Homo sapiens: one gene and its partners. The protein of the gene in region 4 interacts with the protein of the main gene of each other region in a biochemical or structural test. Each region holds a gene or a part of one and is shown on either strand. Other genes may lie near its edges.

Region 1 (7,136 bases), on a different chromosome or scaffold from region 4:
TATTTAGCAAAGATGTGTTTGAAATTTTACAATTATTGTGGAAATGATTTGGGAAGAACAGCTATAGCTGTAATATGGGAACAGCAGAGTATAATGGTTTTAAATCAGCTTTCACACCTTCAGTTAGGGAATAAGGATGAAGCAGTCTTACTATTTAGGATATTGTCCTAAGAAAGCTCCAAACCAGAGGATGAATAAATGGTTGGAAAAGAAAATGATTTTATAGACAGCAGTCTATAAAGTCCTAACCATTAGACGCAAAGGCACCTGTGATGCATCACTGTATTAAAAGCTGACACAGCAGCACAATATTACTGAGGATTTTAACTCTCTGAACATTTATAAGCATTAGGTTTTACAGGTAAAGGAAGTGATAGGATAAATGTCATTCAGCCCAATTTTACACAGCTAGTAAGAGGGTAAAAATAATTAGAATTAAGGTCTTCTTTTAGTCCAGTGCTATCCCTACTCGGCTGTTCTTATCATTAAGAGCATTAAAGATGAACTATAATGAAAAAATGTAGCTAAAAAAAAGAGAGAAAGCAGAAAAAAAATCTTAACAGTATAATTGATATAAATAAGAAAAAAGACCTGGTTTTTAAGTTAACTCCAAACTGACTATAAGCCTAGAAGGGAACCATAATGGGCCAAAGGTGCCAGTGAAATACTGGAAAATTATGTCATATAAAGAATAATTGAAAAAACAGATTTATTCTAAAATAGGGGAAGATGTGTAGAGGTGGGTGATTGAAAGGGTGACACCTCTGATAAGTTGACTAGGTCTTAAAAAGATATCTAGGGCCATATTATGTTGTAGTGGGCTGAATGGTGGCCCTCAAAATGATACGTCTATGTTCTAATCCCCAGAACCTGTGAATGTCACCTTCCTTGGAAGAAAAGTGTCTGCAGACGAAATTATGTTAAGGGTCTAGAGATGAGGAGATCACCCAGGATTATACTGGTGGCCTCAAATTCAATGCAAATGTCCTTAGAAGAGATAGAGAGGACAGGAAGGCAATGTGAAGATGGATGCAGAGACTGGAGTAGCATGGCCACAAGCCAAGGAAGCTGCCAACCATCAGAAGCAGGAAGAGGCATGGAATAGATTCTCCCCTACAGCCTCTGTAGGGAGTATAGTCCTCTGAAACTGAATACATATGTAGACTGGAGATTAGATCTCTGTGCAAAACAGGGTAAGCGTAAGCGTAAGCTGAAAACAAAGGAATTATACCTACGGGCAGATTTTGGCACACTTTAAGTTACAAGCATTCTATTACACCTGTCCCAAATTGTAACAAGATATCTTCCTTGGCTGGAGGACTAACATGGGTGTTATTATACAAGGGTGATCCCTACACCTGGGAGAATAATTTTTCTCTAAACACCTTTCCCATTCTTAAATTTCATGTATATCAATAGTCCATTTAAATTCAGGAGTTACCATCATTCAATATTTAAAGCTGATCATAATAATGAAAGCATACAATATTACAACTCCTTATCCTGTATGAAAACAGTAAAACAAACAGAAGAATCCTAATTCATAAATGCCCTAATGATGACTCCATCCTTAGACCTTCACAGACATTTAAGATGGATCCCAAAATAGGGTGGGTCTATTGGAATGTATGGCCAACTTTTGGTTTAATATTATTTAAGACTCCAAGTGGACAACAGAAACTTCATAAAGGGGCAATTTTTTAAAAGTGCAGTTGTCTAAGTACTACTGTGCTTTCCAAATTAATGGGCAACTGCTTCAGGAGCCTAGTCACATGAATAATGAAATGAGATGAATAAAGACTGACATTTTTCGGAAACAAACAACCAAGGACAATCATGAAAACATTCTTTTGAGGTAGTTGCATGGTCTAAGTTTTGACATGTAATAAAATGCATAGTGCTAGACTGCTTATAAAGATAAAATAAAGACTCATTTGTTAGACAATTTTGGGGAGAAGTATAAAATACTGGGCTCCTCTGGCTTCTTATAGAAATGTGTTGTGGGTTTAAGAATAGCTCGTAAGAAGCAAAAGAGGAAGAGGTGGGTGGCAATTAATAAGTCTTTCTTTTTTTTTTTTTTTTCGAGATAGGGTTTTGTTTTGTCGCCAAAGCTAGAATGCAGTGGCACAATCACAGCTCACTGCAGTTTCAAACTCCTGGGCTCACATGATCTTCCTGCTTCAGCTTCCCAGCAGCTAGCACTACAGGGGCCCAGTAAGTCACCATGCTCAGCTAACTTAAAAACTTTTTTTTTTGTAGAGATGGGGGTCTCGCTTTGTTGCCCAGGCTGGTCTCAAACTCCTGGGCTCAAGCAATCCTGCCGAAGCATTCCAAAGTGTTGGGAGTAAGGTGTGAACCACTGCATCCAGCCTAATCTTAGTATTTAATTTAAATGACTCAAATATATACAAGAGTATTTACCTGTTCTGTTTCAAAGATATCCCGAAGGTGTTCAAGGCCAAGGCTTTTTAGAAATTGGCTGATATTCATGTCAAGACCAGCAACTAAAACAGAAACATATTAAAGATTCTCAGAAAGAATTCTCTAAATATAAAGAAAATTTCAGTATCCATTTAGACATGACTCTGACAACCTTGGCTGTCAGATGATTTTCCATGGCATAAAATAATACAGAATACACAGATTTAATTTAGACACTTTATTTCTGAAGTTGATTGGGAAGTAAAAACAGAGTGTTTTATCTTTATCAAATTAGTATTTGTATTCTAATATTATGGTTAGAATATAGAATTATAACTTATTGTAATTTATAAAAATATAGAGAATATTATACTAATTTTAACATTATAGTATAATTCTTATACTACAGAATGCTACTTATATAGAAACATCTAAAGCTTTTAATGAATTAAAAAATCTAAATGTATCAGCTATCATTTTAGTTTTCATTCCTGAAATGACCTCTCAGTTGTGTTCTGACACAATTTCAGTATAAGTGGTTCAATAAGATGCTATGGTTGTAAACAGATGCTCTAGAATATACAGAAATAAGAACAACGACAATGCCAAGAAACGTGGCAGCCTTCTATGAAGAAATATTTCTTGTAAGATGTTGTGTGTATGAAAATTTACAGACAGGACGTCTCTAATTGAGGCATTCAATAGTTATCAATAGAAAAAAGTCATTCTGCTCCACTAACAAAAGGTATAAATAAATAAGCATTCATGGGGTCTACTCACCTTCTCCTTCCTTCCTTTCTGTTCCCGCGGCGCCATCCCCTGCATTGGAGGCTCCTCCTACGGCCAACTCTGCTAAAGGGCCAGTGAGGTTGTCTATGCTGCTGGCAGCCGAGAGGCAGGAGGGGGTGGATGCTGGTGAGATCAGAGAGGCACTCACTACAGTAGCCTGAGGTTTAAAACAGGTAGGTAAGGCCTCTGGGGGCATGGCATCTATCAGCAAAGCTCTGATATCGTCAGCCTAAAAAAATGATTAAAAACAAAAACCATGAAAATACTATATATTAAAATGGTAAGTTTTTCACTGATAACCAAATACTTTGTGGATTTTTTCCTTAATGAATGCCTCATTATCACCTACTGGTTTTTGATCATTCCTTCTCCTATCCACAGCTCCAAAGAGTTTCAATAGTTTCAGTAGACAGAATTGGAGAAACTATGTAATTTTTAAAGATATTTCTTCTTTCATTTAAAAAAAAGCACTTTCAGTGTTAACTGTCACCCTTCTTTAGAAAAAATTTCTGTGTTTACTATATTTTGTTTACGTTTAAACAGCTATAATCTGGTTATTTACTTCACACTTAATAATTTCATGTACAATTAACATCTGGTGAAATTTCAAAGGGATGACACTTTAATTTAGCTCATTTATTCATAAACTTTTCAGTTTTTAAGTATTAGATGCAACTGCTTTTCGAGTATGCGGGAGATAGTCTCCAAAGACAGCCACCCATCAATTCCTTCCTCCCGTCATGTATGCCTCCCCTTGAATTTCTGCCCCCTACCCGCCGAATGTGGTTTGCCCTGTGAGTTGTCTTGACCAATAGAATGGAGAAGAAGTGACATTCTGAGGCTTTTGAGCCAGGCTTTAAGTGGATTGGCAGTGTCTACTTTTACTCTCTTAGAAGCCATCTGCCATGTTGTACAGAAGTTTGGGCTAGACTACTGAGTGGTGAGATCCTATGCAGGGAGAGCCCTGCGGGATGAAAGGCCATCTTGGAAGCTCCAGCCTCTGCTGAGTTCCCAGGTGCAGGTAACTGCAAAACCAGAACCACCCAGCTGAGCCCAGTCAACTCCCAGACGTGTGAGAAATAATAAATTGTCACGTTAAACCCTCAGTGGGTTTGGGGGTGGCTTAGTGGGCAGCAATAGAGAAATGAAATGCACACCAGTACCTGGAAGTGGGGTGCTGGTGGACATGTGGCTTTGGTTGGAGGCGTGAAGGGTGGCCTGGTTATTGCTGAGGGAGGCTGTGAATGGAAGATAGATAGGCAAGTGCTACTGAAGGCGAGAGAAAGGGGACTAATGCTGTGTAGCAGAAAGTTTGGCAACGCTGCCACAGGAGGTCTTACGGAAGGTAGAACGTAAACCTAAATAAATTTGTAAATTTGGCTAAGGAAATTTCCAGAACAAATTCTGCCTTGTCAACTGGACTGGTGTGTTTATCTGCCCATGATAAGGTACAGGAAGAGAGAAAGGAACTGTCCAGTTCTCTTTAAGGAAATGTATTCACCTAACATTTGCTAGCTTAGAAAACAAAATTATTCACCATTCCCAGCCTCTCCATCAGCAAAAGTTTCTTCAAGTAAGGCACAGCCTCAGGCCAAAGGTCAAATCCAGCGTGCTGACAGGAAAACATGGCCTCAGAATAAAAATCAACTAGAGGTACAGATATATTACCTCAAAATCTTTAAAAAACCTCTAAGGTGGTACCTTGTGAATTCCCTTGGCTAGATGAAAGAGCTTCAAAGGATCTTATGGGCATTGTCCCACTGCACCTTTACTTGGATTCCATGTTAGAGAGGGACCTGTCTTGAAAAGATTTGTGGGTGGAGCTTTTGGCTGATGGAGTGGTGTGTAATTTGATGGGAAATCCAAAAGTTTACAAAGGAAGAGTTGTACTAGTTTGGACTAAAAGGGACAGGTAGATCAAAATGATAAAAGGCTCAGGGTCCCGAAAATTTCTAGGAGCAGGGAACAGGTTGAGAAAGCCACTTGGCTGTAAATATGATCCATTTCTTATGAAAAGAGAAGGATAATTCAGAGGGCATGGCCAAGAGCTACAGAGGCTATGTACAGTGGTTCACACCTGTAATCCCAGCACTTTGGGAGGCTGAGGAAGGAGGCTGAGGGAGGAGCCCAGAAGTTCAAGACTAACCTGGGCAACATAGCAAGACCCTGTCTCTACAAAAAGTAAAAACAAAAAAAATAGCCAGGCATAGTGGCATGTGCCTGTAGTCCCAGCTACTCAGGAGATTGAGATACGAGGATGGCTTGAATCTAAGAGGTTGGGGTTGTGGTGAGCCATGATCACGCCACTGCACTCTGGCTTGGGTGACATAGCCAGACTGTGTCTTAAGGGGGAAAAAAAAAAAAAAGAAAAGAAAAAAAAGGAAAAAAAAAGACAGCCACAGTGAACCACTCCCTGGGAGCAGAACTGGGCCCTAATCAGGGATCATTCCCTAACTCCAGAGTAGATGGCCCTGATAACATGTGTCTGGCTGAATTTTAGAATTGCTAAGGACCCAGTGATGACTATCTGCCCCCTGTTGGTGGGGGGAGCACGTGGCAGGTGAGTGTAATTTGAATGTGGGAAAAATAGATTTAATTTGTATTCACAGGGAAGACTGTGGCTGATTAAAGATGGCCACGAAATTTTTGCTTCTCCTTTCAAAGAAGGTGGAATCTGTTTTCCTATCCCTTGAACCTGAGCTGACTTCATGACTTGCTTTGCACAACAGAATGTGGCAGAAGTGACAGCATGTCAGTTCCAGGCTTAGCCTTAAAGAACAATGACAGCCTCTGCTTTCTCCCTCTTGAGATACAATTATTCTGTGAAGAAATTCTAACAAGACCACTTAATGATGAGATGCCACATGGGACTAGAGAGGCCCCTGCCTTCTAGTTGTATCTGTCAAGGCCCCAGGCATATGAATGAAGCCGTCTTTATGTTTCTGCCCCAGCCACCAGCTATATGCAGTTGCACAAGTGACCCCAGGTAAGACCAGAAGAATCTCCTAGCCAACATACAGAATCATAAGAAATAATAAGTCATTATTATTTTAAGCCACTGGGTGTTTTGAAACAGTTTGTTACGCAGCAATCAATAAATGAAACAGAACATAACTTGAAAAAACATTTCTGGCTTAAAAATTAGAAATTACTGTGACTATACAGTAACTCCCTGGTTTTCAGAAAGTTCACGGAAGATGATGCAGTGCTTAACTTTGCAGTTAAATAATACTGCCCAGAGTTAATTTTTCTTTGACTATCTCACAGACTTAGGTAAATTATCATGAACATTAGTTGCTCTACAATAACATGCCAAATATAGAAGGTACAAGATATTTTACTAAATATAATTCTTTGAGGGTACACTCTAAAAACATGTTTTCTTAAGATCCATGTTTTCCCAGCAGGCTAAGAATGGCAAAAAATTAAATTAACTTACTGTTTAGTTTGTCTTAAGAGTTTTAAATTATATTTTCATAGAAAAAGTGTGAACTTCAAAAATTTTCAGAAGATCTCTGTTCTAAGTGAAATAAACACGACTAAAAGTAAGCTGGTGAACCCGAGAATCTGATGTCATCTGTGAAAGTAGAAGGAACAATAATCAGTATCTGAAATGAGGACTTACTGTTGCCAGATCCAGAGGCGTCTGGCCTTCCTGGTTCTTCATGGTGGGGTCTGCACCATGCGCTAGGAGGAGGGCGCACAGCTGCGTCCTTCCTTTCTGGGCTGCTTCATGGAGGGGAGTAAACGCCCACTTATCTGTTGCATTTACACACGTGTTGTATTTTATCAATAAAGCCGCTATGTCAACATGCTGAAAAAAAAGAAAAGGATACAAAGAGTTAAGAATGAGATCATCTGGTAAAGCACCATTGTGTATACCTGTTTTTATTTAACAATTCACTCCTCTGTATCTCCATTTTCAT
Region 2 (7,534 bases), on a different chromosome or scaffold from region 4:
ATGGGGTTTTACCATGTTGGCCAGGCTGGTCTCGAACTCCTGACCTCAGGTAATCCGCCCACCTCGGCCTCCCAAAGTGCTGGGATTACAGGTGTGAGCCATGCCCGAGACATATTACATTCTTTTTGGTATGAAATCTTCAAAATCTGATTTTTATATTTACAGCACATTTTTATTTGAACGAGCCACATTTCAAGTGCTCCATAGCAACTAGCCATGGCTAGTAGCTACCATATTGGTTAGCACAGACCTAAAAACAGGGAGTTTATAAGGGTTGAAGCTCAGAGTTTGGCACCAGACATACCTGTCAGTCATATTCCGACCCTGCCATTTATTAGCTGGATGAACTTTGGGGTCGCTAACCCTTCTGAGCCTCAGTTACTTCAGCTGTGAAAGGGATTAATAATTTCAGTGCCAGAGAATTGCTTTGAGGATTAAACAAATGAATGTGTGTCCAGTGCCAGGCACAGAGGAAGTGCTCAGAAAATGGTGGTGCTTCACCTTCTAGTATCCTCTGATGTGCTGGGGTACGTGCCTCCACTAGATTGATTGTGAATTCAAGGGCAGAGGCTGTATTCAATTCCTCCAGCCTTCCCCAGTGTCCAGGGCCTGGCTTGGTGTGAGCATTACTGCTTGCTGAATGAAAGATTAAGTCCTTGGGCTGGGAGTGCTCCCCACCCCACCCTGCTTGCCCAGTAGTCAAGGGCCCTGGTGGCTGGGAGTCAGGAGACCACTGACTACTTGTGGGTGACCTTGGCAAGTCACTGCTTTGCTTAGAACCTTGGTTTCCTCCTTTGAAAGATAAAAGGGAGATAGGAGGGGCCCTGCCTGAAGTGTTTGGTTGAATCTCTGCCCCGCAGTGACCTTGGGGGTCTGTGGCTGACTCTGTGTCCCTTGCTTTCCCAGCCAGTGGAGCGAATCACTTCCGTTCTCCTCCTGGCTTTCCTGTATCCTGGACTTTTGCACCATTAAGTTCCATCCAGTTAAAATTTAAGAGGAAAGAATTTCTCCTGCCTCCTAGACAGAGCAGAGAGGGAATGAAGGGTCCTGTCCCTTCTCTTCTGCCAGCATCTGCTGACCTCCCATCACAGCAGCCCAGTGACAGACATGGGGCAGGGATTCTCCCATTTTATAGGTGAGAAAATTGAGGCTCAGAGATGTCAAATAACCTGCCTAAGTAATACAAAAAGAAATGGTAGCGCTAGGGCTGGAAGCAGAATTTGCAGCTAAGGAACTGAGGAACCCCTTTTTTGGATGGGCTCCTCTTTCCTTCTTTCTCCATGAGACTTGGTCCTAGGTTGAGTCCTATCCCTGTGCCTCAGTTTCCCTGCCTGGGGAATGAAAACAGTCAAGTAACTCAAGTAGTAATTGCAACTGATGCCTATGGGGGCCATACATTCTTAAGTGTCTCTCCTGCTTCCTCCAGCCTGATTTTTCTGGAAAGGGTTATTGTTGGGTAAAGTGGAAAGTATGTAGTCCAGGGAGCCAGTGTAACTGTGTAAGCGTAACCTTGGGCAAGTCACTCCCACTCTGAGCCTCAGCCTGCCTATTTATAAGATGGGGGCCGGGCGCGGTGGCTCACGCCTGTAATCCCAGCACTTTGGGAGGCCGAGGCGGGCGGATCACGAGGTCAGGAGATCGAGACCATCCTGGCTAACATGGTGAAACCCCATCTCTACTAAAAATGCAAAAAAAAATTAGCTGGGCATGGTGGTGGCAGGCGCCTGTAGTCCCAGCTACTCGGGAGGCTGAGGCAGGAGAATGGCGTGAACCCGAGAGGCGGAGCTTGCAGTGAGCCGAGATCGCGCCACTGCACTCCAGCCTGGGCAACAGAGCGAGACTCCGTCTCAAAAAAGAAAAAAAAAAAGATGAGGGATGATATTATCTCACAAGATGCTGTGCAGATGACACACAAAAGTATTTTGCAAACTGGAAAGTGCTAATAGAAATGTTAGTGAATAATAATAATAATCAAAATAATTAAAATAGCAGAAGCCTCATTTTCTGTGTGGTCTCAATGACCTGAAGTGAATTGAGCCCTTTGGGTATAAATGCAGAACGATGTCTGGGAACATCCTGCCTCGGTCTTTGGAGTGTAGCCTGGATTCTCCTGGGAAAGTGAGAGGCTCCATCTGGTTGAGGAGGGTGGGAAAGTGGCCCTGCCCCAGGGGAGGAGTGGGGAGGGCTTCAGCCTGGGGGAAGGAAGGAAAGGGAGATGGCCAGGGAAGGAGAGTTGAACTAAGAGGAACAGAGAGAGCCTTGGCCATGCAGCCCAGAGCCTCCTGCCCACGGGAGCCCACGATTGGGAAGGCTCAGCCAGCAGGGGAGACTGAGCCTATTTGGAATCAAAATACTTGAAGGCAGGCAGTCAAGAATCTCTTAGCAGCTGTGCATCTGAAACAATAAATGCATCTGGTATAACTCCTGAGTTTTATTGGTCCTTTCACTCATTCATTTAAATAAATGTGTGGTGAGCTAAACTCAAACAGAGCACCTTGTGTGGCAAAGTGACTTGCCCAAGGCCACGGCCCCAGGGGCCTGTGTGAGACTCCCTTGGGAGCTCCTGGGAAAAAGTGAATTTGAAAGGCCTGGGGATGAGAAGTCCAAAGGCAAAGGACAGGATTTGTACAGAAGGCTGCCAAGCAGGACACTCGTCCTTCTGTCAGTCGGCCTGGGCAGATTTGTCTGTCTTCCCACCTTCTGTCTGGAGGGTGGGCCTGTTCTCTAGGACTGGGAGAAGCTGGCTTCATTCTGCTCTCTGCTCTTCATCCGCTGCTGAACCTGGTGAGCAGGGGGAGTGAAGGCACCGGAAGCTTTGTCTAAAGACACCTGATGAAGGAGGTTTAAGTTGGAGAAGAGAAGGCTTGCTTTGGGCATGGTACAAAGGGACGCAATTGTATCTTGAGTTCTCTAAAGGGTGCTGAGGAGAGGGCATAGCCTCATTCTTTGGAGGCCCTAGAGTGCCTATGAGGACCCAGGGTAGAAGGTCACCATGATGGAGCAGCACACTGGGAGGGAGGAGTTGGGGGAGGGAGGTGCCTGGCTCTATAGTGTGTGACAAGCAGAGATGGAGAGCCCACTGGTGAGGCTGATACTGAGGGAATCGCATCAGGGAAGGATGGAGGGCTCAGCTCACATCGAGGCTGCTTCCCAGCTTGGGGCCTCTGTGCTTCCCAGGGCAGTGGATTCTGTGGTAAGAACTATGGCCAGCACATGGTAGGTACTTAGGAATGATGTGAAGAATGAATGAATAGTTGTGTATGCCTGGAGGTGAGGGTGGTGACTGGGGGTTCGCGGTCATATGGGTTGCAGTGGACCCATGGACAGAAATCTTTGGAGATCATGCTGCGGTTACCCACCATTCTCTCTATGCCTTCGCCATGAACTAGGGACCCTAGAGATAGGAACGTCCAGCCCTTTCGTCATTTGCAAATGAGGCCCAGAGCATGGAACAACTTGCCCAAGGGTACTTGCTGAGCCAGTGGCAGACCTGGACTGGAACCCAGGCCCTCTCCCTCCCAGAGTCCTCTGTGGCTTGAGGTCCCCACCTTCGGATTGTGTGAGATGGAGGTGCTGCAGTGGTTGGACTGGTTTTTTTAGTGGGTAACAGTGCTCCTGGAGGGGAGGAGCATGGCTTACCTTGGTTTTGAGCCATGATCTCTGCCACAAGCTGCTTGGCCAGCCCCTGCCCTTTCCTGGAGCTCAGGTGCACACTCAGCCTGTGCTCAGACACATACAGCAAGTGCGCCTGTACACAGGCCCCATCCCCAATAGGTCCCTGGGCTCTCACTGTTACACTTACTGTCATTGTCACCAAGGCGCATGTGGACAAATGTACACATAGACACCCTCTGGACACACTCAGAGGCACAGAGGATTCCCAGGAGACAGTTGTAATACCTCCTCCCGGTGGGGGAGGACGCCGAGTCCTAGGCGGGTTCTGCCCTGTCGCTGTGCTGCAGGGGTGGTGAGGGGATCCGGCTCCGGTGGGATGGGAGGCCCACTGAGGCTGAGTCACCCCTTCTGAGTCAGGCATGCATCCCCCTCTTCTCTCCTCCCCCTCCCTTTCTCGCTGATGAGCCCCCAAGAGGGCTTGGCGAGAGCAAGGAGGCCCGGGGCTGGCTAGGACCAGGGTGGGGGCAGCCGGGGCGCTCGAGAGGCCCCCCAGCTGCACAGTCCCGCAGTGGTCTGGGAACTGCCCGTGTGGCACGGACCGGGAGGAGGTGGCCTGGGAGCCTGAGAGAGAGGGCGGGGCGCGGGGGGAGGTGGGTGGTAGAGGAGACAGGCAGAGAGGAGGCGGAGGCAGGGGCAGGGCCGCGGCGCGCTGGGAGGCAGGCGCAAGCGGCGGCCGCCCCTGGGCTGGGCTCCGAGGCCGGGGCGGGGGCGGGGGCTGGCCGCGCGTCGGGCGCCAGGCCCGGGGCTGTGGGCACCGTGCCCAGCCCCTGGCGCACGCCGAGCCGCCGCCGCCGCCGCCGCTGCTGCAGTCGGCATCCATCAGCGGGCGGGGGTGTCGCCGAACAGGCTGCTCCGCAGAGCCCGCCGCGACCCCGCGCCGCCCCGCCCCGCGGCCTGCCTGCCAGAGGAGCCGAGGGGGCCGCCCCTCGCCCAACCTGCCCGACATGGGGAACCCCGGGCCCAGGTAGGCACATGGGGGAATCAGGTGGCTCTCGGGGCCGGGGGCTTGCAACATCTAGGCCCAGCCTCCAGCCCTGGGGAGGAACGGGGGCGAGGCCGAGAACTGAGTTTTCAGGCTGTTGGTCCCCTGGCCAGTGTGGGGGAGGGTCTCGCTGTTCCTCCCTACCTACCGGTCTGCAGCCTCCTCCAAGGCCTGGAGAGAGGATCCGGAGGCTGGGGGTTGGCGGGGGGTTGGTCCTGCTGTAGGATGAGCGGTGGGTGGGCGCTGGGCTCCCACCGGCTGGCCCAGTCTCTTTTCGGAGAGCACTCCTGCTGCCGCCTCCAGAGGCCAAGGGCTCTTTGGATTTCTGCTGCTTCTGACGCTGCAGGAGGAGTTCTTGGCTGGAGCCTGGGATGCTGGCGAGCCCTTGCCCTCATCTCTCCTCACTCTGGTTACGGACCCTTCCCCGCTCTGGGCTTGCCTCCCCTTCCGTCTCCCTTCCAAGTACCTCAGAGCTGCTAGGAGGGATCTTAGCCCTAGGACTTCTGCAGTTCTGGCCTGGCATTGTCCTGGCCAGTGACCGTCCCCTGATCAGAGGGAGAGGGCTTGTGTGTCCCACTTGTGTCTGGCACCTTCACACTTGGGGAGGTCCAAGGGCCCGAGAGGCTGGGGTCTCAGGGATGGGCATGGGGGGCCAATGTCTACAGCCATTGGGGTACTTACTGGGTGCAGAGGCCACTGACTGGCAGACGTATATGGCTCAAAGTGGTCCATGGAGACCTTGAAGTCTGGACAAGGACCAAAAGGGAGTTCTGGGGATGCTGGTCTCTCCCTCAGCTGCCAGCCATCGTCGTTGCTTTTCCCTCGGAGCTCTGAGGATGCATTGGTGGGGGAGAGAGCACCACGTGTTCCCACATTCACTTCTGGATCCGCATAGCACCTCCTCTGCACCCAAAGGTGGGAATGTGAGACGGCCAGATTTAGGACCTCTCCAGGGCTGTGCGGGGTCCAGCGGCTTGGCTTCATTCCCACCCCATCCCCCCACCCTCAGCATTAGGAGCCTTCCAGAATCAGTGGCACTTGAGCCAGGTCAAGATCTGGGGCCTGGATGGTGCCCTCCGCAGCTCTTGGAAGACAGTGCCTCCTGTCCCGGGCAAGGGTGTGGAGAATAGAGGCAGCTGTGTGCCTCTCTGCCCACCCATTCCTCCAGATGGAGCCTGCGGCAGAGGCAGCCTGTGCCAGCCTCCCCTATGAGCCACCGTGGCCCAGGAAGGCTCTGCCAGCTCTGTGCAAGGATGGAGCTGGCTTCTCCTGGCCAGCCTGAGGTCATGCCTGCCTGGCAACCCAGGCATAGTATTTATGGCATGCAGAGCACAGTCCCTGGGATTTCAGGGGCACCTCAAGGCAGTCCTGGAGGAGATCAGTGCAGAGGGCATTGTTCCTATTAAAGCCCTTCCTGGGCTATGTGACAGTCCTCCTGGGCTCAGCCCTGTGAGCTTCTTGAAGAGCTTCTTCCATAGAATCCTGCATGAAAACAATGCTTGGTCAGGTAGTCCTCACTCAGTCGATATTGAAAGGTTGAACGGGGCCTAGAGAGTAAGAGTGACTTGGCCAAGGTCACAAAGCAGCTGAGCGGGGGAGTCAGCATTAATGTACCCAGGTCTTCCACCTCTTGTTCTGGGGCTCTTGCAGCTCAGGTGCTGGCTTCCCTGCTGCGGTGGTTGTGCTATAGACAGGACTCTGCCAAGGGCTAGGCATTGTAGCCTGGAGCCTGAGGCTACCTGATCCCTTAGGAGGGGTGTTATGTTGGCCTCCCAGCCCTTGCCCTCAGTAGGTGAGCAGGAGAGGTCAGGGCTGAGAGAAAGGGCCGTGGGTGGTCCTGGACCCTCTTGGAAGTGCATAGAGCTGAGAGGATGCCAGGTGCCCAGGGATGTTCTGGCCTGAGCCTCCAGGGGGCAACAGAGAGTTTTCTGACTTCAGGCTGTGGTGGGAGGTGCTTGTTAGCACCTGCCGGGACTTCCCTAAGAGCCCCTTTCTGGGCTTCTCTGTCCCATTTGTTAAAAGGGGACACAGGCGTGCGCCATTGCGCACGCCTGTAATCCCAGCACTTTGGGAGGACGAGGCGGGCAGATCACAAGTTCAAGAGATGAAGACCATCCTGGCCAACATGGTGAAACCCCGTCTCTACTAAAAATACAAAAATTAGCTGGGCGTGGTAGTGCACGCCTATAGCCCCAGCAACTCGGGAGGCTGAGGCAGGAGAATCGCCTGACCCCAGGAGGCAGAGGTTGCAGTGAGCCGACATCGTGCCACTGCACTCCAGCCTGGAGACAGAGCGAGACTCCCTCTCAAAGAAAAAAAAAGGGCGGGGAGGATGATCATCTCTGCCTGGAGATAAATACCAATGATTACACAATCAAAGTGATAGTATTTATTGAAACTTACTGTATGCCATGTACTGCAAGAAGTGCTTTGAGTCATTTCACAGTAACCCTGTCAGATAGATGTGATTAATTATCCACTTTTTACAGAGGAGAAACTGAGGCTCAGAGAGGTTATGTCACTGGACTAAAGTTACGCAGCTGGAAAGTGCGAGGCGGTCTGAGTCCAGAGCCCTTCTTTCTACCATGACATTTACTGGGGGCAATATCTGGAAGTACCAGGTTGGTGTCCAGTGGAGCCAGGCAATTCATTGGTAGGCCAGGGCCAGTCCAGGTGGAGAGGTGTGTGAGGGGTGTGTGTGTGTGTGCCTGGTGAGGCAAGGGTGGCTTTGTGGACTGAATATTACTATAGTGCTGAGGGGTAGGGGTAGATAAGTACTGACTAGGAGCTCTCAGAGAAGGATTAGCCTTGGCCTTCTCCTTCCTGGCCAGGGTCCCCCAGAAGTGGGGAAACACCAGACTCCCTGCTCCCATTGGC
Region 3 (7,637 bases), on a different chromosome or scaffold from region 4:
CCAGCCCCCAGGTCCATGTCCTTTCCACCTGCCCAGAGTGCCTCTTAACTTCTTGGAAACTCTTTCCTCTTCTGCGAAAGGATAATGACACTCTTCTGTCATGGGGCTGTCAAGAGGGGCGAAATGGGAGTGTAGGGAGGCACTCTGGATGCCACAACAGTAGCTACCACTGGGTGACACTTCCCTGCAACACCACGGGGACAAAGAAGAGGCTCTGTGGACGGTGAGAGTTGGCCAGGAGTTCCTGTTTGCATAATTATAGTAAGGCTATCTCGGGGCAGGGAAACAGCACATCCGGTGTGCAGCACGCAGGAGGGAAGGCAAGCCACAGGAACTGCTGCATGCTGGGACCTGCGGTCTCCAGAGGCCACGGAGGGGTCTGGGATCTGTAGTCAGGTGCAATGCATGCTAGGATTTGTAGTCTCAACTGTCTGTCCCCACGGACCAAGCTTCTCAAAGGAATGCCCCTTTCTCCTGCAGCTGTTTGAAGGATCTTGGCCACATGGGGCGTGTGCGAGCACCTTCTCTTTTTTGGCCTTCTTTTTCTCAGTCTCTCCATCTTTTGCGTGCTCTCTCCCTCTCTCTCACACAGACACACAAATACACACACACACACACACACACACACACACACACACACACGGGCAGGGAATCTCTGCGATCTCACTAACCCTTCTGCCCCTCTCTTCTCTCTGGCATAGAGCACGGGGGACTCCCCCAGCAGCCTGGCCCCACATTTCCCATTGCATTGGATCACCATTTGGAACTTGCCACCCTCGCAGCAGCTCCCACACTCACCTTCTCCCCCCAGTCCACTGAGGGGGCTGCCTGCACTGGAGCCAGAGAGGTTGGGGCGGGCAGGCCGGGCCAGGGGCCGTGGTGTGGAAGACGCAGGCCCCAGCGCTGGAGCGGGACTCTCAGCACAGTCATCGCCCCCATAACCCTGACAGCACCTCCACTCCATGTCGGTCACTGTCTTGTAGGCCACACGGTAGCGAGGGCGGAGGAAGCGGCGGTACCTGGCAGAGGCAGAAGGAGGCCTCTTTATTCCTCCCTGTACGGTCAGTGACCCTGGTCCCTGTCCTCAGGGGTGGGCAGCTGCTGGTGGGCATGGCCTGTCCCTCAGGCTGGGTCCCTCTTACTGTCCAACATGTGGCCTTGCTTAGCTGACAGCTGTCAGCTTTTTGGCCAAGGGTTAAATCCCTGCTCTTCCTTCCCTTGCCCTGTGCTGGAACCTTGAACTCCTCTGCTTGAGCCTGAGCCATCCCAGAGAAGGCATCTGGGGCTGGCGCGTGAGGCAGGTTTGCCCTCAGTCTCCCACCAGCCAAACTGTTGTCTCAGTATCTCCTCAAAATGGCTGTGACCCTAGCCCCTGTCCTGCCCTTGCTCCCTGCTTCATACAGACTCCCTGAGTCAGCCACCCACCATCTGCCCTCGCCCAGTTCCCACCAAGGGCCCGTTGCCCGGCCCTGGGACTCACATGATGCTTTGGGGACACTGGGGCTGGCCCCAGGCACAAGGCTGGTACTTGACATATGTCTCCACTCCATCCTCAAGGACACAGCTCACTGTCCGGGTCACCACGTAGGCACACCAGTTCCTGTAGGTACAACCCCCTCTGGGTCCAAGGACCAAAGATACATGCCCTGGAGGAGGGCCCAGGGGCTACCAGAGGGGCTGAAGAAGGCTCCAAAGATGCAGAACCCTTGGGGATCAGTGAGAGCAAGGGCTTTGGCATCGCCACCCTCCCTATCCCCCACGCTTTCCTGTGTAGCAGGAGCAGATAAAGACTTTTCAAGATGGGGAGACGCGCAGAATGGAAAACCACAGAGCAGTCAATCCTCATGGTGGTGGGGTCCCGGGGAGCCTCTGAATGTACACAATCATGTGTGTCCCTTTCTGGGCCTGTCTCAGTCCCCAGATTGGCATGCTGTGTGCGCATAGCCAGCCCGGGCCCTGTGGGTGATCTGAACACTGGCTTCCACCCCACCCCTCCAGGAGAAGACGGGCAGGCCAGCTTGGGGTTAAGTAGAGAATAAGCCATTGATGAGCCTGCCCCTCTTGGGGATTGCAGTTCTATACTCCTGGCCCCATTCACTCCGGCCTCTGATCTGTGTCTGGCTGGAGGGCTGGAGGGAACAGAGCTGGAGTGGTGTCAGAATTATGGATTACTGGATGGGGTCAAGGGAGCCCTAGAAGGGGACAAAAGTTCTCCCTGAGGCTCTGGGGCTAGGATACAGAGGGCAGCTGGCAGGAAGGCCTGGCCCGCTCCCCTCAGGGCAGCTTCCCTGGGGCATGTGGGAGCGGACCCCCTAGGTGACCCAAGGAACATATGTGTTCAGGGGGTCCTGGAAAAGGCCCCGTGGGAAGGTGGGCATGTGAGGAGCCACCTGATGGATGGGCTTCTCACTCCCCCTCTGCCCTGCATTAGCGGACACAGCAGAGAGCCAGGCAGAGGTGGCATTCTGACCCCTTCCTCACCACCCAAGCCTCGGGCTGGGATCCAGACTCTTACCTGTGGCGGCTGGCTGGCCGGGGGGCAATCTGGGCCTGGGGCCCCCCGGGGCTGAGGGCCCCACTGGAACCTGTGTAGAGGCTGAAACCTCGAGGAGGGTAGCTGGCGGCCCCTGCAGCTGCCGTCAGCAGGCAGCAGAGGTAGCAGCTCCAGAGGGTGCGGGGGGCCATGGCGGGGCGCTCCACAGTGGCCCTCAGAGACTCATCCCGCCCAGCCACTGGCGCCTCTGCCGGCCCCGGGGATGCTGCTGCTCCACAGGACAGCCCGAGCCCGGCCCGTCCGTCCCAGTTTCCTTCTGATAGCCCCCGGCCACACGTCTTCTCCTTGGCTGCCTGGCCTGACCCCTCTCCCCTCCTCTTTCCTCCTCAGCTCCTGTCCGTCCCCTCTCGGTTCCTTCCGCTCTCCTCTTCACTTCTGAGGGGGTTTGTTCTCTGTGCCCCCTCTGGCCTCCCGCGCCTGGTCCCTGCCCCTCTCAGGAGCTGCGTCTCAGAAGTTGCCTCCTGGGCGTCCGCCCCCTCGTCCCAGCTGGCCCTCTTCTGGTCTCCCTGTCCTCTTTCCCTGATGACCGGATCCTGGGGGTGACAGGGCTTTGCCCCTGTGGCTGTTCGGAGGCGCGAGAGTGGCTGTGGGGCGGGCCCTGGCCTCCTCCTCCCTGCTGGCTCCCCTCCCTTCCCCCCTGTCTGGCTGGCGGTCCGGCCTCCCCCTTCCTCCCCCCACCTCTCCAACCATCGTGCGCCACATCTGCTTCTTGTTAACTCCGGGAAAGAGGGAAAAAAAAGGAAAAACAGAAATGTGGAGTTGCCGCCGGGCTTGAGGCCAGCCTCTCAGATGGGCCACATGGAGCCAGGGCCGAAGCTGGGAAGGAGGCCCAGGGCTGGTCACTCCGACTGGGAACAGGAGCCAGGGCCGCAGCTCCCCTGGGGCTGGAGCAGGCCTCCCCTGGGGGAGAGGGCCCCAGAGAGGGAGCCCAGAGGGGAGGGTGGGAGGGAAGGACTGACTGGACAAGGGAGAATGAACTCGGAGGGCTCAGCAGGACTTCACTCACCGTCTAGTCTAGCAGTCTCCTTTTAGAGATGTGAAAATTGAGGTCAGAGTGGGAGAGTGACTTGTCCAAGGTAACACAGCAAGTCAATGGTGAGGCTGAGAACACACACTAAATACTAGGTCAGTGACTTGGGAGAAAGGAGGAGAGGAGAATGTGCTGCTGGGCCAGGGAGGAAAAGGTCAAGGACTCCACTGAGGCAGATGGGAAATCCACAGATGACAGAAGAGGAAGAAAGGGCCTTGTGTGGTGGCTCACGCCTGTAATCCCAGCTCTTTGGGAGGCTGAGGTGGGCAGATCACAAGGTCAGGAGTTCGAGACCAGCCTGACCAACATGGTGAAACCCCATCTCTACTAAAAATACAAAAATTAGCCAGGCATGTTGGCACACGCCTGTAATCCCAGCTACTCAGGAGGCTGAGGCAGGATAATCGCTTGAACCCGGGAGGAGGAGGTTGCAGTGAGCCAAGATCACACCACTGCACTCCAGCCTGGGCGGCAGAGCGAGACTCTGTCTCAAAAAAAAAAAAGAAGAAGAGGAGGAGGAAGAAAAGCACCTGGCAATGGGGAGCAGGCTTCTGTCAAGCGGTAGAGGGCACGTGGGCAGGAAGAGAAAGAACCTTTCTTAAAGGGATAAATGAAAATGGGTCCTGGGCTTGTTTTGGTGATGGTCAGGCCATAACTGGATGAGGGTGGGGGTGAGGTAAATCGGGACCTATCTTTAGAGCACCAAAGGAAGTCAGTCCCTGGCCTGGAGGCAAGTCTGATAGCTCTCAGTGACAGGCAAAGAGCCGTCAGCCTGACCTGAAAGTTCCACCTGCGCCACCTTGATCTAAAAGCTTGGTCCCCGTCACCATCTGACCCGCAGCTCTTGACCAGGGTCTCCAGCTGGTGGGATGCTTGGGAGAAAGAAACAGAAGCACTAGACAGAAAGGAGACAGGAGAATGCTGTGTGCCAGGCACTGCGGAGGTGCCCAGGTAGCAAAGGCATAGGTAAGACCCAGACGCTGTCCACTAAGGAGCAACTGAGGTTGTTGGAGAATGGGACACAAGCCCCCAAACAGAGAACCGTCACAAGCCAGGACAGAAAAAGTGCCAAGGGGCAGGACAGAGGGATGATGTGTGTTCCAGCTAGGAGGAGGGAAAAGACAGCTGGCTGCTGGAGACAGTCAGAGGAGAGGCTGGAAAAGACAAAAGCTGAACAGCATTGGGGTGGGGGCGGGGGTGGGGGGCAGGAGTCAAGAACAGAGACAAGGCAAGGAGAGAGATTTCAGGCTCAGGAAGAGCGGTCTGCCTCAGTCTCCTCAGCTGTAACACAGGAATAACAGGACTCTCCATCCCACTTTGTGAGGATTAAGTAAGTCAGTGCATGTAAAGCATTCTAGAACAGTGTCTGGCAAATGGTAAATGCTCAATCAATGTTAGCTCTTTTTTTTGTGTCAGGAAAAAATGGGACCGAAATTCAGAGAGGTAGATTGTGGACAAATTAGGGAGAGGCTCAAATGACTGGTTATGAGGTTGTATTGCAAGTTTTTGAGTAGAAGCATATACACATACACGAAAGAAGGTATTGTGGGTGAGAGCGCTGAATACGGTGTCAGAACACAGGCAATGTAGCCCCAGCTCCTCCTGTCACTATGACCCAGCAAATCCCATGACACCACTGGGAGTCTATGTGTCATCTAAAGTCCCTTCCAAATTCTACATTGCAAAGTGATGCAGACTTGGGCTCTGGTGGTGACAGTGACCATGGATAGGCAGGGAACTTTGTGACTGCCTGAGTAATGAGGCTTGGTGACTGCCTGAGTAATGAGGGACCAGATGAAGGGAGACACGAGGGAAGATTCCAGCATTTGAGCCAGGATGGGGAAGTCGGGAAGAGAGCAGGTTTGGAGGAAAGAAAAGTGATCGTAGTTTGAAGATACTGAATTTAAGATGAGAGTAACACATCCTAGTGGAAACCAGTGTCTAGGATTGTTAGCAATGGTGGGCCACTGATTCTTCCAACATGTGCAGGGCAATAGGTGGAAGCCATGAGAATGAATGCCATCAAATCATCAATGTAACTCTGAACCATCTTGCCTCTGATGTCCTATGACCCAGAATGTGACCTTGATGGCTAAGAGAAATGTTTGTGAAAAGACAGGGTCAGGCGGGGTGTGGTGCCTCACGCCTGTAATCCTAGCACTTTGGGTGGCTGAGGTGGGAAGAGCACTTGAGGTCAGGAGTTTGAGACCAGCCCGGCCAAATGGTGAAACCCCATCTCTACTAAAAATACAAAAATTAGGCCAGGCACGATGGCTCATGCCTGTAATCCCAGCACTTTGGGAGGCCGTGGTGGGTGGATCCCATAAGGTCAAGAGTTCGAGACCATCCTGGCCAACATGGCGAAAGCCTGTCTCTACTAAAAATACAAGAATTAGCCAGTGTGGTGGTGTGTGCCTGTAATCCCAGCTACTCAGGAGGCTGAGGCACGAAAATCACTTGAGCCCAGGAGGCGGAGGCTGCAGTGAGCCAAGATCACGCCACTGCACTCTAGCCTGTGCAACAGAGTGAGACTGATTCAGAAAAAAAAAAGGGGGGTGGTGGTTGGTGAAAGTAAATGCTGGAACAAACAGAAATGGAAATTTGTAGTTGCCCCTTAGAGCCCTGGGGATCAGCACACAGGGAGATTTGAAGGAAATGTTCACAGGAGATCCCGATTTCAAAGAAGTTTTCGGTGGAAGGTTGCAGCTTTGTCCCTGGTCTCTAGGCTCTGGCTCTGGCCCTGGCAGGAAGCCAACCCACTTCCCCTCCAGATTGCCCCAGCTGCTGCTATGGGTTTTCTCTCTCTGCTCTTCTCCCTCTCTTCACCCTTAGGAAGCCTCTGGCAACCTGAAAAGTCACCCCAGCCATCTTGTCACTGCCCAATTGTTACCCATTCCCTCTCCTACCCTCTGAAATTCAAAAATCTATTGTATAATTTAAGTGTATCCAGTGAAAAATGTTGGCTTTGAAATATAGTTGCAGTAGGTTGCATTTCATTTGCCTTTATGTAATTAGGAGACGAGACCTAGGAGCTGTCATGAATGTTTGTGAAATCACAAACATATCAGTGGCTCTGAGTTCACCAGGGAGGATGCTTCCCCTTGCTGGCTTGAGTGGGCAAGCAGGGTGCAATGGAGCCTAAAGTTAGAGTGCAGTGGTAGTGGTGATGGTGGCAGTGACATGCTGGTGGTGGTACTGGCAGGCAGCCATAAATTTCCAAAGCAATTGGTAAGAGTTCCTGACCCCCCAGAAAGCTAAGTTGCTGGTGGCACTAGGACATGATCTATTTTACAACCTCTCCAAGGTGGGTAATTTCCAAGCATCTAGTGCCAATTGGCCCTACATGGCAATGAACTCATTCATTCAGCTTCACTGACTGAGCAAGAGTTCATGACCAGGGTCAGGACAGCCGTGGGCACCAGCAATAAGGAGCATTTTATGTCTAGCCTCTCTGTCAGAGGACTGAATATTGGGAGGGAAAAAGGGGGAATAATATGATTTGGGGCCTGGCACAGTGGCTCACGCCTGTAATCCCAGCACTTTTGGAGGCCGAGGCAGGCGGATCACTTGAGGTCAGGAGTTGGAGACCAGCCTGGCCAGCATGGTGAAATCCTGTTTCTACTAAAAATACAAAAATTACCCGGGTGTGGTGGCACACTCCTGTAATCCCAGCTACCCAGGAGGCTGAGGCAGGAGAATCACTTGAACCTGAGAGGCAGAGGTTACAATGAGCTGAGATCGCATCACTGCACTCCAGACTGGGTGATAGAGTGAGACTCATCTCAAAAAAAAAAAAAAAAAAGTGATTTGGGCCTTGGGTCATGCCAATCCACATGGGACTTCAAGTTTGTGGGGAGTCTTGAGCAAAAGCCCACTTTTCTCCAAAGAGATGCACTTTACTTTTCCTTTCAGCTCTTCCTCCAGGTTTAATACTTTAGTAGCCGACCTCCCTGAACCCAGTTCCCCTTCTCCCAGGTCTTGTTGCTTTCTCACTCCTGAGCCTAATCCTGGCCTCATGTCCTTTCCTTGAAAATGTCACACTAATCACAGAGA
Region 4 (7,136 bases):
TCCAGGCAAGGCCCAGTGGCTCACAGCGGTAATCCCAGCACTTTGGGAAGCCAAGGTGGGCAGATCGCTTGAGCTCAGGAGTTCCAGACCAACCTGGGCAACATAGTAAAACTCCGTCTCTACAAAAATACAAAAAATTAGCTAGGTGTGGTGGAGTGTGCCTGGGTCCCACCCACTTGGGAGGCTGCAGTGAGCTGAGACCGTGCCACTGGACTCCAGCCTGGGCAACAGAGCGAAACCACGTATCCAAACAAAACAAAATGAATGATCCAGTGGGGCACATGGCAGATCTAGGAAACGCTGCACCCCCCTAAAGGCATTCAAATATTTTAATTCAAATATTTATGTAGTGTCTCACTGTGAGCATCACGATAACCTTTTAAATAGTTATTAATACTCTATCTTGCAAATGAGAAAACTTCCCCAAGGTTAGGTAACTGGCAAAATGCTGGGCACAGTCTCTAGACCTGTCTGATGCCAAAGCAAGAGCTCTACACCATTAGGCTTCTAGCAGTGCAAACACCATGGAAGATACAGAACCCTCAAAGTCACTTTTCATGATACACAACCTTAATAGTAGGATGGGAAGCCCAAATCACAGCTTATCTAACCATATCCCAACTGCCTCCAATTCTGTTCATTTTCCAAACCCCATCTTTCTGCCAAAGTATTTCATTCCTAGTTATCCAAGTCCTACTGAATTCCTTCTTCTGTAAATTCCTATAGGGTTTATAGATTAGACAACACAAATAAGTGCTAAATTATATACTGTCTTGCAAAATCAGATACTGCTTCTATGTATTTTAGTGTCAGCCTCATCAATCAAACTATTGTATTAATCTATATAGTTCTTCTACCAAAAATGCCTAACCTGAATCTAATCAAGAAGAATCAGACAAATGCTATGAAAGACAAAAAGGCATTCAGATTAAAAAAGAACTGTTCAAAGTTAAAGCAGACTAAAGACATGATAGTCATGACAACTAAGTGCATAAATACATGCATGATCCTTCAATGAATCCTGAATTTTAAAAAACTCAATAAAAGACATCACTGGGAAAAGATGAGAAATCTGAACAAGTATTATATACTGGATGTATTGAATCAATGTTAAGTTTCCTGAGTGTTAATAGTACTGTAGTTATATAGGAAGATACCTTTTTCTTAGGAAATACTTGCTGAAATAGGGATTAAATAACATGATATTTACATCTAACAGTCAAAAAGATTCAGAAAATGAAGGATAAATAGACAGCAAATTTGGCAAAATGTTAATAGTGACTCTAAATGAGAAGTATATAAGTATTTGTTACATTATTTTGCAAAATATCTATAGGTTTGAAAATTTTCAAAATAAAATAATTTAGTAAGGAGGGAAATCCTGTATTATATACTTTTTTATATACTCAGCTCTGTGACAGATATAATAGGCACTCATTACTTTAGGTATCTGCTCACTACCTAAGGAAACTGGGCATTTGGAGGTCAGCAATCAGACAGAGTCCACTTTGCTGCAGCTCATGAGGGGTATAGTAGGAAATTCTTAGGGAATAAGAGGTTTCTCCAAAACTCACATTGTCACACCACAGGAAATCTAGAAAAGCAGGCAATTACCTCACTCCTCATTGAGGCCATCACAGAAGTACAGGCACTGAACAAATGCCCACTCGCTAGGCAGAATGCAGCTGCTGCCCACACGTTAGTACCCAGTGGTAAGGTGGATACAATGTGACCTCAGAGGACCAAGAGTTGAGGTCACATTGCATCCACCTTGCCACCGGGTACCAAAAATTTGACAATCTGCAAAACAAGTGTCTCTGGCCAGTCACAGGAAGGCACTCAAGTATCAAATAAACATGCCTGAAATATATGCAGTCTTTCCTCCTCACCAGATAAACCAGTCCTCAGCTGCAATAAGGCAGAAGAAATCTGCAAGGCTGAATCACTGGTATTTCCTGTGCAGACTTCAAAGAAACTGGCCCTTCAATAGGACAGAAAGGGCAGGCGACACAGCTGCCAACAGAGGCCTCAACCCAGGAGCATGCTATGCAATAATGCCTTCTCTCCCTTCTACAGCCATCAGATACCTCATTTTTACTTCTGCCAAATGGCCCCTTATTACCGCGACTGATTACCTAATAGCCAACCCTTTACCTTGGTTCTCTCCTCCCCTCAATGAGACCCAAGATACTGGCCTTTCTAGACAGCTCCTCCTCCAATTTGCCAGAGGAATTGTCAAAACTATTCCCCTGGCCAGGCACGGTGGCTCACGCCTGTAATCCCAGCACTTTGGGAGGCCAAGGCGGGCGGATCACACTGTCAGGAGATAGAGACCACGGTGAAACCCCGTCTCTACTAAAGATACAAAAAATTAGCTGGGCGCGGTGGCGGGTGCCTGTAGTCCCAGCTACTCGGGAGGGGAGGCTGAGGCAGGAGAATGGCGTGAACCTGGGAGGCGGAGCTTGCAGTGAGCCGAGATCGCGCCACTGCACTCAAGCCTGGGTGACACAGAGCGAGACTCCGTCTCAAAAAAAAAAAAAAAAAAAAGCTGCCTAGGCCAGGCACAATGGCTTACACCCATAAACCTAGCACTTTGCGAGGCCGAGGCAGGAGGATTGCTTGAGCTCAGGTGTTCAAGACTAGCCTGAGCAACACAGCAAGACCTTGTCTCTACTAAAAATCAAAAAAATTAGCCGGGTGTAGTCCCAGCTACACTACTTAGGAGGCTGAGGTGGGAAGACAGCCACTGCACTCCAGCCTGGGTGACAGAGCGAGACCCTGTCTCAAAAAAAAAAAAAAAAAAGTTGCCCACAGTAGGAGGTAGAGGAGAGGCCATTATTAAGCACACTCTCAGTAAACCATGAATCTGACAGAGCTACCCAAAACATCAATGCAGTCTTAAGCTGCATTAGTAGAAGATGACTCTATGCCCCACCTTTGAAGAGCAAAGTTAGAGGACTTGCAGAGGAAGAACACCAATGACCATGGCAAAGGGTCTAGAAGTATATCATTTCAAATATGGAGGAAGAACTACACACTTTTAGCCAGGGGAGAACAAGAAAACTTTTTTCAAATATACGCATAGCTTTCACATAGATGAGGAGAAAGACTTATGAGTCCACTATAAGAATACAAAACCAGAACTAATGAGTGGAAGTTACAGGAAGACTGATTTTGGTTTGCCACAGGGAAGAAATTTCAGCATGTTGTAGAAGTTCAGAATGTGGGATGTAGAACCCAGAATGCTTGGATTAGGATGTCAACTCCACCACTTATAAACTGTGTGGCTTTGGGGAGATTAATCTACCTGTGCCTCAGTTGCCTTCCCTGTAAAAGAGAATAGTAATAATAGAACTTAGCTCACAGAGCTTTAAGAAGTAGCTTCCGAGGCTGGCTGCGGTGGATCAGGCCTGTAATCCCAGCACTTTGGGAGGCTGAGGCAGGTGGATCACCTGAGGTCAGGAGTTCAAGACCAGACTGGCCAACATGGGGAAACCCGTCTCTACTAAAAATACAAAAAAAATTAGCTAGGCTTGGTGGCGCATGCCTGTAATCCCAGCTACTCAGGAGGATAAGGCAGGAGAATCGCTTGAACCCAGGAGGCAGAGGTTGCAGTGAGCCAAGATCACGCCATTGCACTCCAGCCTGGGCACCAGGAGCGAAACTCCATCTCAAAAAAAATTAACCAGACGGTAGTGGTGTGCGCCTGTAATCCCAGTTACTCGGGAGGCTGAGGCAGGAGAATCATTTGAACCTGGGAGGTGGAAGTTGCAGTGAGCAGAAATCACACCACTGTACTCCAGTCTGGGTGATAGAGAGAGGCTCCATCTCAAAAAAAATAAAAAGAAGTAGTTTCTGTAAAGTACTTAGAACAGTGCCTAGTTCACAATATACGCTGGAAAAAAAATGTTACCTATTGCTATTACTAAATGTTGATACAACAGACCAGGCTGGGTGTGGTGGTTTGTGCTTGTAATCCCAGCACTTTGAGAGAACTGCTTGAGCTCAAGAGTTTGAGACCAGCCTGGGCAACATAGTGAGACCTCGTCTCTACTAAAAATAAAAAGAGTTGCCAGGCACAGTGGCGTGCACTTGTAGTTCCAGCTACTCAGCAGGCTGAGGTGGGAGGATAGCTTGAGTCCAGGAGATCGAGGCTGCAGTGAGCTATGATGACGCCACTGCACTCCAGCCAGAGTGACAGAGCAAGACTCTGTCTCAAAATAACAAACAGGCTGGGTGCAATGGCTCACGCCTGTAATCCCAGCACTTTGGGAGGCTGAGGCGGGTGGATCACCTGAGGTCAGGAGTTCGAGACCAGCCTGGGCAACATGGTCAAACCCTGTCTCTACTAAAAATACAAAAATTAGCTGGTTGCAGTGGCACGTGCCTGTAATCCCAGCTACTTGGGAGGCTGAGACAGGAGAATCACTTGAGCCCGAGAGGCGGAGGTTGCAGTGAGCCAAGACTGTGCAATTGCACTCCAGCCTGGGCGACAGAGTGAGACTCCATCTCAAAATAAATAAATAAATAAATAAATAAATAAAATAAAAATAATATACAATACAAAAAACAGACCAGATAACCTGAAGCCCTTCCTACTAAATATGCCTAGAAGTGCTCAGAAAAATATAATAAACATCCTTCTAGACTGTGCCAGCTATTAAGGTATTGTCTCTCAGCTCCAAATCTACCCTGTTATGCTCCGCTTTGTGATGCTGGGGCCTGGACTCCACTAAACCCCATTTCACATTTGCCAGCTGGATCCCTGTCAACAGGGGGTGCTAAGGGGAAAACAGAAGACAAGAGAAGGCTACAAGGGACTTCCTCCTTCTTGTAGCCTGGTGTTTCTTGACAACAGAAGTTGGTTCTTCCCAGTTGCCTTCTAAACTCCCAAAACCAGCCTCCTGCCCCTCAAAGGCACCAGCATCAGCTAAGTAAGGCTCAACAGAAGCCAGCTCCTCCAGGTTCCTCCTATAAGGGCCTGAGAAACCAGCAGCACCAGGTAACACCCTCTCCAGAGAATCTGGGTACAGCTATTCCAGATCCCTCTAGACTTCTAGGTTCTGGTAGCCCCAACCTTCCTCCCTTTGTTTTTCAGTCCTGGATGAGAAAAATTCTTTATGCAGTTATTATATTGAAGTTACTTTAATATTCCCTTTCTGCTTTTTCAGCCCTCCACCAAGGGTTTAAATCAATCTCCTTTATGGAGTTCACTCTATTGTGTGGTTTCTGTTTTGCTGATTGGATCTGAACTGACATATAGATAAACTGAGCTCTCAAGAAAGTAAGAAAAATCCCCAGGAACCAGAAACAAATTAGTGAGGAGGATTAGCGAGCTGATGACATAGCTGTCCTAGCCGTGTATGGAATTTGTAACACCCTCATAGGTTCAGAAGACAGATCTTGAGTCCACAAAAGGCACTGAGATCCCTGTGCAGAGGCTGAGATTCTTAAGTTTATACTCAGTAAGATAATAGACTAGGAAAAAAAATCTGTCCAGAGAGAAATAAAAAACTTGCCTTGCTCACCTAGTGAGAAAGGAGGGAAAAACCGTCTAGGAATTCAAAACAGGCTGGGTGAAGTGGCTCACGCCAGTAATCCCAGCACATTGGGAGGCTGAGGTGGGTGGATTGCTTGAGCCCAGGAGTTCGAGACCAGCCCGGGCAACATGGCAAAACCCTGTCTCTACAGAAAATATAAAAATTTGCCGGGTATGGTGGTGTGCACCTGTAGTCCCAGCTACTTGGGAGGCTGAGGTGGGCGGACTGCTTGAGCCCAGGAGGCAGAGGTTGCAGTGAGCCAAGATCCTGCAACTGCACTCCAACCTGGGCAACAAAGCCAGACAGATCCTATCTCAAAAAATAAAATAAAATAAAATAAAATTCTAGGAAGCAGACATTAATATGTAGTGAAAAACAAACAAACGATCAGTGGTTCCTGGTATCAGGGTGAAAGGAAAAACGGACTGTAAAGAAGTATGAGAGCCGGGCACGGTGGCTCACGCCTGTAATCCCAGCACTTTGGGAGGCCGAGGAGGGCAGATTACCTGAGGTTGGCAGTTCAAGATCAGCCTGACCAACATGGTGAAACCCCATTTCTATTAAAAATACAAAATTAGCTGGGCATGGTGGTGCATGCCTGTAATCCCAGCTACTCAGGAGGCTGAGGCAGGAGAATCGCTTGAACCCAGGAGGCAGAGGTTGCAGGGAGCCGAGATTGCACCACTGGACTCCAGCCTGGAGAATAAGAGTAAAATCCATCTTAAAAAAAAAAAAGCATGAGAAATCTTTTGGGGGTGAGAGAAATCCTCTGTATCTTGATTATGGCTGCTGTTTACAGGTGTAGACATCTGCCAAAACTCAACTTTCTTGAAAATTATTACAGACACAAAATTGAAAACATGAGACAAAAACAAGATCACGAAAAACAAGCAGATTTGAAAATGAACCAAAGAGCACTTCTAATAAATGAAAAAGTTAGCTAATAAAAATAAGAATTCAAAAAACAAATTAGACCTAGCTGAAGAGTAAACTAGTATACTAGAAGATAGATATAAGGAAATTATCCAGAAGTTAACACAGAAAGATAGAAATGGAAATTATGAAAGAAAGAATAAGATGTAGACGACAGAATGAGGAAGTTCAACATAAGTTACGCATGAGATCTGAGAGAGGTAAAGAGGTAATGATTGGGAATTTTTACACAATTAGTGAAAAGATATGAAATTTCAGATTAAGGAATTACTATATGCCCCCAGTATATAGTGATTTAAGAAAATTAAATTCACACCATGTAATGGAAGTACAGAACACAAATGACAGCAAAGAAGATCTTAAAAACAAACAGAAAGAAAGACAGGTTACCCACAATAAAATAAGTTAATTTGCAAGCATAGTTCTCAAGAGTAACAACAAAAAGCCAGAATTTCAATGAAAAAACACTTTCAAAGTGCTAAGAGACAATAATTGGAAGCCTAGTACCCAGCTAAACTACCAATCAAGACTGAAAGTGAGCTGGGCACAGTGGCTCATGCCTATAATCCCAGCACTCTGAGAGGCCGAGGCGGGAGGATCACAAGGTCAGGGGATCGAGACCATCATGGCTAACACAATGAAACCCTGTCTCTACTAAAAATA

Evidence for each region.
Region 1: the proteins of NUMA1 (region 4) and TNKS form a complex in vitro, tested with the Homo sapiens proteins (one study listed by BioGRID).
Region 2: the proteins of NUMA1 (region 4) and EPB41L1 form a complex in vitro, tested with the Homo sapiens proteins (one study listed by BioGRID).
Region 3: the proteins of NUMA1 (region 4) and EMILIN1 form a complex in vitro, tested with the Homo sapiens proteins (one study listed by BioGRID).

The regions. Positions count from the first base shown.
Region 1 is NC_000008.11:9,747,912-9,755,047, reverse strand, and holds part of TNKS (poly [ADP-ribose] polymerase tankyrase-1), read right to left. Parts: intron 7,025-7,136; coding exon 6,836-7,024; intron 3,440-6,835; coding exon 3,202-3,439; intron 2,505-3,201; coding exon 2,422-2,504; intron 1-2,421.
Region 2 is NC_000020.11:36,150,258-36,157,791, forward strand, and holds the start of EPB41L1 (band 4.1-like protein 1), read left to right. Parts: upstream 1-4,482; 5' UTR 4,483-4,639; intron 4,640-4,805; exon of another isoform or gene 4,806-4,997; intron 4,998-5,338; exon of another isoform or gene 5,339-5,503; intron 5,504-7,534. UniProt on the Homo sapiens protein: May function to confer stability and plasticity to neuronal membrane via multiple interactions, including the spectrin-actin-based cytoskeleton, integral membrane channels and membrane-associated guanylate kinases.
Region 3 is NC_000002.12:27,074,114-27,081,750, reverse strand, and holds the start of EMILIN1 (EMILIN-1 precursor), read right to left. Parts: upstream 3,137-7,637; 5' UTR 2,686-3,136; coding exon 2,516-2,685; intron 1,601-2,515; coding exon 1,481-1,600; intron 1,020-1,480; coding exon 799-1,019; intron 1-798. UniProt on the Homo sapiens protein: Involved in elastic and collagen fibers formation. It is required for EFEMP2 deposition into the extracellular matrix, and collagen network assembly and cross-linking via protein-lysine 6-oxidase/LOX activity.
Region 4 is NC_000011.10:72,070,522-72,077,657, forward strand, and holds part of NUMA1 (nuclear mitotic apparatus protein 1), read right to left. Parts: intron 1,782-7,136; exon of another isoform or gene 1,707-1,781; intron 1-1,706. UniProt on the Homo sapiens protein: Microtubule (MT)-binding protein that plays a role in the formation and maintenance of the spindle poles and the alignement and the segregation of chromosomes during mitotic cell division.